2 separate regions of the Homo sapiens genome follow, and region 2 is linked to region 1. Evidence: fine-mapped expression QTL. A gene starts in region 1. The other region holds a variant in brackets. All regions are shown on one strand. Distances are between the middles of the regions.

Region 1 (5,368 bases):
GCTGATGGGACTTCATGGTTCACAGCACCACCCTCCCTCCGTTTCACGACTGACTAGGTATTCAGACAGAAGAGGACCCTCTGATTAAAGCAGGAGGAAGGACAGAGTAAGGCAGTAATGTGAAATCAAAGTAACAATTACAGCTGACTCACCTTGAATAGTAATTTCACCTGAAATGGGCTCCCCTGAATCCAAAGGTCAAATGCCTTCCCCAAGGGCAGCAGGCTGGACATGTTGAGACCATTCCTTTGGATTTCCAGTAGAGAATTTTCCTACACACACACACACACACACACACACACACACACACTCTCACATACATTCTCACACAACAGACACATGTCAGTGCTCACAGGGCCTTGCCCACAGACAGACACATACCCGTAGAAACACACATGCCATGCACTCAGACATCACCTCACTTCTCAACAGTTAATCTCACTTCACAGGCGTGAAGCCATACTCACCCATGGTTTCCAACCTCTGGGCTTTGGTCAGTGTCTGTTTCCTTCCTCAGCCCCTCCTTTCCTTCTTCCCTTCCATTGTTCGGGTTGGAAGGATTTGGAGAGGCCTATGTGTTGAGCCAAGGCAGGAAAACACAGAAGACGGTGTGCCCCAGCTAGTGTGGACATGGGAGGGGACAGCTGGTCCCTGCCCTCAGTTCAAACCACCAGTCACCTGTGGGGAAGGGCTTGGCGGCTAAACAGGAGCTCTTTCCCTGGGGCTTGGAGTCCACCTTTCCCACCTCTGCAGCTCAGATACCAATTCTATTTTTTTTTTTTTCTACATTAATGGGTTGGGTTTGAGAAAGTCCGTGGAGCTTATTTGGGAGTAAAGGATGGGGGGCGGGAGGATCCTTCTGATTGTTCGCATTTCGAGAAGGGTAGTTTTAGCCCATAACTCACCATGGAGGGCCCTTCCAGGAGACGTCGGGCAGGGCTTTCCTACAGCGGAACCGGGAGGCCGCCCCGTGAGGGCAGAAGCTCCCGCCAGGAGCCAGCACCACCAGCAGAGTGTGGAACCCCCAGAGGTCCTAGCCTCCTCCACGGGGCCTCCCAGGTGCTAAGTGGGGAGATGGGGAGAGGGTTCTGCCCTCTACTTGGAAATGCCTGGCCGTGTTCGTGGAGCCTGGGAGGTGCGGAGGAGCGGCGACGCGGCCATGGCGCTAGGCGCGCAAAGGCCCCGACACCTTACTAGGGCGGCGGCGGGCCCGTGGCACCGCTCCCGGCACCGAACAGGGCACAGCACTGGGGACACCTCTCTGCAGGGACCCAAGACGCGCGTGCGTGTGCGCCCCACGCCAGGCCCTCGCTCTCTTGCGGAGACTCCGCCGCATCGCTGGCTGCACCTGCCTCTCTCTTCTCGGCATTACTTGGGGGAAAGGGGACTCTTCACTGGACCTTTGCAGAGGTGGCTGCTACCCTTTGGCCACATAAATCAAGAAGGCAAGCCAGCCTCACCTTCCAGGAACCTCCAGCCTTCCGGCTGCGTCCCCGCCCCTCCCGCCTGGCCAGCTCCTCCCCCGCTTCTCCCAGCGCTCTTGCGCGCCTCGCTGCGCCTCTGCGCGCCGCTCGCTGTCCTCTGCCTCGCCTCCCCATTCTCCTTCCGCATCTTCTCCAGTGCTCCGCCGAGGGCGCTGCCTGCGGGGAAGAGGGAGACTGAGCCGTTAGTGAGGAAGTTCGGTCTGTGGACAAGTGTGGTGCCAGGCCGCCGCGAGGCTCGGCTGCAACCTGTTCCTCGCCCGCCGGTGCTCGCCGCCCGCCCGCTCGCACTCCCGCCCTCTCGGCGGCGCAGCCGCGGATCGCTGTTGCATGCTGATCCGGGGAGGCGGCGGTGGCGAGCGCTCCGGGCGGATGCTGGCACTCAGGCTTCGCTGCTCTCTGGATGCTGCTCAACTTCTAGCCCAAGCGCAGGAGCTTTGAAGTCATTTGTCCCTTTTCGCTTGGATCGACTTCTTATTTTGAGATTTTGGGCATTGCGGTTTACGCAGGAACCTCAATATCGCTCTCCCCACCTCCCTCCCTCTTTCTCCAACCTTTGGATGCGTCTCTGCTGGCAGATATAAAGACCCAAGTCTTCGCGGTGGAATTTCTTAGATGGACTTGCAGGGGCTGGCGTTATAAAGCATGTCATCGTAACCCCGTCCTCGTCTTTGTTTATTTTTTTTTAAAGTTCTTTTGTTTTCATTTTCCCCTCCTTCCCACCCCTTCCCCCAACCAATAAATCACCAAACTGTTACCTAGCGGGCCGGTGCCTGCCTCTCTCCCTGAACTAGGTGGTGCGTCTGCCAGAAGAGGAGCTATGTTTGAAGAGCAGCCTACTCCACCCCTCTCCTCTCTGGTCCCTGAACACCACCACACACTGGCATTTTGAAAAAAATATTTTCCTCCAGAAACTGGGCACCCCCAAGCCCTACCACCCGCTTTTTTTTTCTTTTTTCTTTTTTTTTTTTTTCCTTCTTGAGGAATGGAGCTTCGCAGAGGTTGCATTTAGATTCAACAGTTCACAGCGGCGGGCTGCTGCTGCTGCCTCTCCGAAGAGCTCGCGGAGCTCCCCAGAGGCGGTGGTCCCCGTGCTTGTCTGGATGCGGCTCTGAGTCTCCGTGTGTCTTTCTGCTTGTTGCTGTGTGCGGGTGTTCGGCCGCGATCACCTTTGTGTGTCTTCTGTCTGTTTAAACCTCAGGATGGCTCGCTTCGGGGAGGCGGTGGTCGCCAGGCCAGGGTCCGGCGATGGAGACTCGGACCAGAGCAGGAACCGGCAAGGAACCCCCGTGCCGGCCTCGGGGCAGGCGGCCGCCTACAAGCAGACGAAAGCACAGAGGGCGCGGACTATGGCTTTGTACAACCCCATTCCCGTCCGGCAGAACTGTTTCACCGTCAACAGATCCCTGTTCATCTTCGGAGAAGATAACATTGTCAGGAAATATGCCAAGAAGCTCATCGATTGGCCATATCCTTTCTTGCCCACCATAACTCCCTCTCCCCCTTTGCATTTCTTCGGGTGAAGGGGGGTACCTAGCATGGAATGTATCCCCCACCCCTTCCTGGTGCCAATTTGCCCCTTTGCTGAAGCACACTCTTCGGTGCATCTAAGGGGCAAGCTTGGTGCCGTGGAGACCCGTTTGGGCACTAGTGTTTTTCAAGGTAAGACTTTTGGTTTTTTATTTTTCCTATGTGGAAATCTTTAGTGTCCCTGGGTGCATCCCTTTCTGGGCTGGGCTTTGTCTGATTCCCAGCCCCCTCCCCACCCCTACTCCCTTCACATGCCGCCCTCTACATAGATTGGGTTGCCCCAATGCTTCCTTTCATAATTAATTCTCATTTTCCTTTCTTTAAGCCAGCCACTCTGCCCGTATCCCCACCAACCAGGAGACACCGCACTGTCTTCCTGTAGGGAAGTCAAGGCTCCATGAGGGGATTTATCAGTTCAGAAGTTCCCAGGGCCAAAACCCTGTGTACAGATAGACAAATGAATAAATAAAACAGGCTTTTGGGTGGGGACTCAGCTAACTCTAGGGACTTAAGTTTAAGTTCCACTGAAAGTGGCATGAGTGAGTGTCTGTCAGGGGAGGTGATCTCTGTTGCCACAGCCCAAGGAGCTCAAACTTGGAGTTCTCCTCTCAGCCAAGAAAGAGCAGCTCATCAGGCCCATCCTGTCCTTGGTCCTTGGTTGGGTACTCTTGCTTCTTAGTGCTTGACCCAGCTGATTGCTCTCCCAGTATCCAGGATCCAGGTGGATCGGCTGGGCCTGAATTCATCCGCTGAGGCCAGAGGTGTGCATGCAGTCTCTCTCTCCCTAGCTCCAAAGGAACTGCTCTCCCCAAAGCACTGGTGGGGGCCATCTCTGATGGTGGTGGTGTCAGGGTGAACAGGCATGGAAGGAGCTTCTTTGCAGGTTTAATCAAGTGCACCAAATGCAGACTGCTGATTAGGCAGCTCACTGCCTTGTTCTTCACTAAGGATTGGACGCCTGGCAAGGCCATTGGGAATTGGGGGTGGTGAGGCAGTGAAGGGGATTAGTAGGAGGCAAGCTAGTGGTCTGGCGTTAAATATGGGGATGGGGTTGGAGACATGGGACTTTGGGAGGGAGATTTGGGAGGGATGCATCTGCAATGGAGGCCCCTTCTTTTCTCCCCTATTCTCCCTCTTTCCCACCCCCACCGTCCAGGTGTGCAGCAGTGAGGCAGCTGGAGCTGCCTTGGGTCTCTAGTATTAGCCAGACACGCGGCTCATTTCCCCCAGGGCCTGGGCATCTCCCTACTCCCCCAACCCCAGTCTCTGGCCTTCCCCTTCTTCTCTAGTTCCCTGCCTCAGCAGCTCGGTGATTGGCTGGCGCGTGGTGCTTCTAGGCAGCACCCCCTCATTAGAAACGAAGGAGCATCTCTAAGCAGATATTCTTCCTGCTGCTGTTCGCATCCTCCCACAGCAACCCCGGCTGGGCTTCTCCCTCTCTCCTCTCTGCATCCCGCTCCCCTGCTCCACTCTCACAGAGTGATCCCAGGCCATCCATTGCCTGAGTTGAACGTATCTAGCTAGGGTGGAGGTTTCGGGCGGGGGAGGGGTCGGGTCCCTGCAGTCACGCCTGCCGGTGCGCTGCACAAAGCGGACAGATCTCATTGTGTTGTGTGCTGCGGCTGCAAATATTCCTCTAGGCAGTCTACGGATTTCCCAGCTGGGCCCTCCTTTCTCACTCGGCTTCTACGGTTCTCTAAATCTTCCCATCCACCAGGTGCTGCCTTGCTGTGCCCCTCTCTTAGGGGCGTGTTTATTCAGACAGGCGCCCTCCCGTTTCTTTGCGGTAGACAAAGCCGCCCAACCGCCCCGCGGGTGGCAAAGTGTGCCAGCAGCCATCGTTGGCACCTCGGACAGCGCCGCTGAAACTCCCGGCGGCCCGGGGCTCCCCAGTTACCCGGGTTCAGCACCTCGGGTACTTCTGGCCGGGCCCAGCCTTGGAGCTGAGAAACCAGGCACGTTTCCTACACCACGTGGTCACCTTTTTTCACGTTTTCTCTTCCGCTGCAAAGACACCGCCTTTCCACCAGGCGTTGCGAGCGCGCAAGGTGCGGCTGTGAGTCTTACTCCTCCCTTTCCTTGTCTTTGGCCAAAAATGGACCAAAGAGAGTCAAACGGGAGACTCTCGAGGGAGTTGATTTCAGCATCATGCTCAGTGCCTTGGCCCCGAGCCCTGTCCCAATGGTCTCTTTTGTCTGCATAGTTGGAAATTTCACAGTGGTTCTACAGCATGTAGGCTGTGGTAACAGTGTTCAGGGAACATCTGCTAAGGTGTTTAGTGGAGCCCTGTTGGAAAATATAAAATACACCATGTACAATGTAATTGACTAATATATTCCCTCTGGTGGTGACCACGT
Region 2 (5,368 bases), 21 kb after region 1:
GCAAAGAAGTCCAGAAGGAGCCCTGGGCCAAGACTCCTTGCACCATAGCTTATCTCTTAACCTGGGCCCTCTCACCTGGGCAGGGTGGAGCGGCTTGCTGAGAGGCATTAGAAAGCCCTCTTGGCTCTCCATCTTTTTACCTCATACTGACTTCTACTTTATGCCATGATCTGGAGAAAATGTGAAACATCCCTCCAGGAAGGGAGCTGGACTGGCCAGGGCTGTTTTTGCTTGCTTGTTCTTTTTTTGTTTTGTTTTGTTTTTTGAGACAGAGTCTCACCCTGTCCCCCAGGCTGGAGTGCAGTGGTATGATCTCGGCTCACCACAACCTCCATCTCCTGGGTTCAAGCTATTCTCCTGCCTCAGCCTCCTAAGTAGCTGGGATTACAGGTGCCCACCACCATGTCTGGCTAATTTTTGTATTAATTGCAGAGACAGTGTTTCACCATGTTGGCCAGGCTGGTCTTGAACTCTTGACCTCAAGTGATTCACTCGCCTCGGCCTCCCAAAGTGCTGGGATTGCAGGCGTGAGCCACTGTGCCTGGCCAGGCCAGGCCTGTTTGAACAGGGCTGGTTTGAATTTTCCTTTTGTGTAGACAGGTTAGGAAGCAGAGATTTCTGTAAGAATGTCTGCTTCTAGGAAGGTGAGGAAGACCATGAGGGATGCAGACACACTGTTGAAGTGATGGTCATAACTATTGCTATGTCTGGGTTTTAGGCACAAGGTCTTATGTCTTCGGCATTACTCGTCCCTCCAGGACAGATGTATCTTTCTCAGTCGGCTCAGACGAGGGTCATATGATCTCACCAGCATGATCTCACTGCATTTCCATCAGGGTCTGTGGGAACTGGAGCCAGACTTCTGTGATGGTTCAACCCCTCCTGTTCTTAGCCCTGGCCTGGGGTGTGATTAATATCCCTTCTAATCACTGGGAGAGATTGCATCAGAGCCATCAGCTTCATAAATCCTCCTCTGGGGACTGGTGTTTGGATGCGCTTTCCATATTCTCAGGAGGTTCTGGGCCAAATGTCTTTGCTCTTTTCCTGGAGGCCCATTACCATAATTTTCTTTTAAATCCTTTATTGGAGTTGGTCTCCTCTGTGTCAGTCCATGGCTACAGCCAGCCAGCCCACTCCTGAGGGCTGGAGGCTGTAACCACCAACAGATGCTTTCCCCAAAGTATTGAGCCACAGTAGATGCTGAAAGATTGAGTTAGTAGGATACTGAAAGTAACTGTATTTGTGCAACACTTTACAGTTTTCAGAGGGAGTTCAGATTCCGGTATCATTTTAGGCTTCAGTCCTTTTGTATTTCTTGTTTGGTTCTGTGGGAATGGATGGTCATAACCCTTCATTGACTCTTGAGTACTGTGTTGGGACAGCTTTTGCAGTCGGAGGCCTGGCTCTGGTTTCCTTTACCAAGCTACATTTTTTCCATTGCATTCCAGGTCTTGAAGAAGATTCTGAAGTTACACGGAAGGCTTGGATAGCTGTATTTCATTCCTGTTCATATGTAAAATGTCTATTTGGTGTCATGCTAATAGGGAATCACAGACTAGTTAAGGCTCTTTCTCTGTTACTGTCTTTGAGTCAAAGTCCACTTATTAGGATGATATTTATGTGCACATGAAGAAGAGGTGGAAAGACATGCATGAAGGTGTCCATGCCATCCTCTGAGGCTGTTACATCTCTTGGATTTAGACATCCAAAAACATGAGACTGAAGGGAGAAAAGGAGACAGGTCTTCCTGTAGGGTCTGGGGTGAGGGGTGGAAATGGGTAAAGGAGGCTGAGGAATGCCTCCCCTCAGACTGTGGACTCTTCTATACCCCCCCAGGAGTTTCCAGGAAGTGCCTGAGTGCCCACCGACTGCTCCCCACAAAAGCATATTCTGCATTAGGCTGAAGTTGGGAGAGTGCACAGCATTCTATCTGCCTGCCTGTCAGAGCATGGCCTTCTTAGTGTTCGGATGTCATAGGCTCTGGGAGGAGACAGCTAAGTACAGAGGTCTTCAGGATGAGCCCCCTGGTGGTGATAGAGATGCATGTTTGCCTGGGGACACCCAATATTTACTGCCTGAGGCCTAAGTCCTTCCCAAGCATGTACCTACAGATCTGTACCTGAGAGGTGATGATGAGGAGGCTTTTCAGGCTCAGGCAGATGAAGAGCTCAGCTCCAGGCCAGGCCCCCAGGGCTCCGGTGACAGCAGAACCAGCATCACCACCCTTGCCCCAGCTTTCTGTGCTTCAAGAAGGAAATGAACAAATGGCAGGTGTGCAGGCCACGTCGTGCTGCTCAAATTAGCCATGTTGCTAAGGAAACAAGTCAACCATTCAAAGGAAGGAGCATTG[G/A]GTAAAGGAGATAAATCAATAAGTGAACCTATTTTTATCATTTCCCTAATGATTGTCTTGAAACTGCTAGACTAGAAAGAGAGTTGGAGCAACACAGGTCCTCATTAATGGGCTCAGAGGGAACGAGGAGTGAAGGGGTGTTTGAGGAGATTGCCAGTAAAGTTTATGAAATGAGGCCTCTAGTGAGCAGTGAGCTGGTACAGGAGGGAAGGCAGGAAGGAAGATGTCTTTTGCAAGTTTCAAAGTGGTTTCATGGTCATTTCCTCATTTTGGCCAGGTCCCTTCATTCTCTTGCATTTAATCCTCTCCGAAGTCTTTTTCTGATTTCTCTGGCCATCGCATTCCTCCTCACTCTCAGGTTGGGATGGGTTTTTGTGTTGATTTGTTCTTTTCAGGATACATATAGCTTTAATTGATTTTGTAGTGATAAATGAACACATGCTCATTTGAACACTCAGAAAATGGTTAGAGGAGTAAAGAAGAAAGTGAAAATAACCCTGCTACCGAGAGAAGACTCATCATCCTTCCAGCAAGACAGAATTTTTTCTTGTTCTCTCCCTTCTCTTTTTTTTTGTTTTTGTTTTTTTTGAGACGGAGTCTTGCTGTGTTGCCCAGGCTGGAATGCAGTCGCACGATCTCAGCTCACTGCAAGCTCTGCCTCCCAGGTTCACGCCATTCTCCTGCCTCAGCCTCCTGAGTAGCTGGGACTACAGGTGCGTGCCACCATGCCTGGCTAACATTTTGTATTTTTTTTAGTAGAGATGGGGTTTCACCGTGTTAGCCAGGATGATCTTGATCTCCTGACCTCGTGATCTGCCCACCTCGGCTTCTGAAAGTGCTGGGATTACAGGCGTGAGCCACCGCACCTGGCCTTCTCTTTTTTTTTTTAAACATGAAAGGGATCTTCCATGTATGCTGGTTTATTTTCTTTTTTAAATAGGTCATGTGTGTCTACAGTGGACAGTATAAAAAGTTCAAATGGGTATACAGTGTGGAGAGTGTGGGTACCTTTTGTAAGGATACCTCTGGCTCTAGTTTCCCTGTATGATTCATTTATCAATTGAATATTAATTTATTAATAAAATAACAGTTACCGGGGCCCCACTGTGTGCCAAGTACAGTGGTGAGTGAGGCAGGCAAGGTCCTGCCCTGGGGCTCCCAGTCCTTACTGCCCCATCATCTCCATTTGTTCAAGATTTCAAAACACAAGCAATCTGGATACCAGGGATAGATATTCTTCCCTAAAATATGCACAGTGTCAGGCACAGAGTGTAATGAGTGTCACTGAATTCTAGAACAGAGAGTCAGAGTCCTGGACAGACTTCCATCTTGTCCCTGATTGTGGTTGCCATGAAGGGTGATGGTCTTTGAGGCCGTGGCGACTCGGAGCTCCCTTTGACCTTTCTAAGTCATGTCTTTGTCCAGTCTGCCAGGTTGAGGGGCACTAGCTTGACTGGTGGGTGGGTGTTATTTGCCGTCTAGGCTCTTCACTTTGGGGATGTAGCAGAGCCATTGCTTTGGGGTGTGAAGTTTTGCTGTCGGGAAGAAATGGGAGTGGTGCCTCGGAGGCAGCCTGCAAGGGTGGGAGTGAGCAGGAGCCATGGCTCAGGCCAGAGTGGGTGAGCAAAGCCCTGTCTTTGTAATGGCTCCTTAGTGAATGCCTCATGTTCATTCTTACCTGCATTGAACATTGACTAAGCTCCTACTATATACCATGGGCTCTGCTAAGCACTGCCAGTAGAGACATGAGCAAAACTCCTGCTTTCAAGATATAGTTTCTTGATTTAAATAGGAGAAGAAATAATACAGTCACACAATTCAAAGAGCTGTGGGGCACGGGGAGAAACTTTCACTGACAAGGTGGCATTTCAGCTTGGTCTTGATGTATGACTGGAAAGGAGAAGAAACGCCATTGCATGTGGTGGCAGAAGCACCTAGATGTAAATGCCTCTTTTTTGTGCTTTCTTCAGAAAGGGAAGTGGAAAAGAGTTTAAAGAACAGGGCTGTAAGGGAGAGTGGCTGGGGCCTAGGCAGACTTGGATGGTCTCTTCTGCTCACCTCCCCTGAGATTTCCCTGCCACTATCCATTCTTTCACCTAGCCCACAGTTACACAGAATCTCCACATTCTCACTGCAGGTTCTTCATTACCGCAGCCATGAATTCATCCTGAGGTCTAGATGCCCTATAAGGCTGAAAGGGACATCCCTCTCAAGGGCATATATATCTGAACAATTTTAAAAATGTAAAGCAAAAAAAAAAATATTTTTAAGCCAGAAGATTGCTGCTGTGAATGGGCCTCACATCAGATAGTGGGAAGAGGATTTGGCTGGAGAGGAAGTGAGAATAGGGTCTTCTTAGAACCTGTGAATTACCAAACTCCCACCTTTAGATTCTAGACTTTAGGGCCTTGGGTAGCACCAGCCATCAAGACCTCATGAATTCTCAGCCACCCAGATACCTGGCCAGTCACTGGGAGTTTGACTCATCAGCACCTGGGCCAAGAGCCATTCCGCTGCCTGGAGCATCTTCCGGTGGTGTTGGCTACACCTTCCTGAGCTAGCCTGTGTCCCCACAAACCTCACATATCTGCCCTTGGACATTCTGGACTAGTTGAGCTTAAAGGTCCTTATAGGGAGCAATATACTTGGGTTAACTGGCTAGGAAAATGCAGGTATGGGTGTGGAAGCAGGGAGCTGGGGCAGTGGAGGAACTGCCATGGTCCAAGGGGATATTGTGAGTGGAGAGTCAGGGGCAGTGGAGGAGCTGCCATGGTCCAAGTGGGTATTGTGAGTGGGGAGGCCTCGGAGGCACATGGCTGCCAGGACCTGTCTTGCCTGCAGGCTCAGCACTGAGAACCCATCTACTTTGAAGCCTGTGCTTATCACTTTCAGGTTTTCAGGGGAAGAAGATTCAACCCCCCAAAACAATCATAGACCCCACATAGACCCATTAGAATGCGAGAGGTCTGCAGCTTGAACGAGAAAGTACTTGTGCCCAGTCCTACCTTCCAGGGCAGG

Alleles and levels. Alleles are on the strand shown, and positions count from the first base shown. SD is a standard deviation of normalised expression in the study named.
For the expression in whole blood of the gene that starts at base 2,456 in region 1, A is the high allele of the variant in region 2 and G is the other (moderate effect, 0.55 SD a copy in GTEx).

The links.
Region 2: its variant is fine-mapped to the expression of CACNA1E in whole blood (GTEx, PIP above 0.99).

The regions. Positions count from the first base shown.
Region 1 is chr1:181,481,062-181,486,429 of GRCh38, forward strand. It overlaps CACNA1E (calcium voltage-gated channel subunit alpha1 E), which reads left to right and starts at 2,456. Exons shown (of 48, transcript NM_001205293.3): 1 at 2,456-2,949. The coding sequence starts at 2,684. RefSeq lists enhancers at 647-1,179, 1,231-1,360, 2,163-2,687, 2,688-3,211, 4,174-4,303 and silencers at 1,511-1,640, 1,681-1,810.
Region 2 is chr1:181,502,452-181,507,819 of GRCh38, forward strand. All of the region lies in intron 1 of CACNA1E (calcium voltage-gated channel subunit alpha1 E), which reads left to right. Among named protein-coding and RNA genes, the nearest start is that of CACNA1E, 22 kb to the left of the region's middle. RefSeq lists enhancers at 2,274-2,393, 2,814-3,043. The variant G/A (reference allele first, on the strand shown) is at 2,351.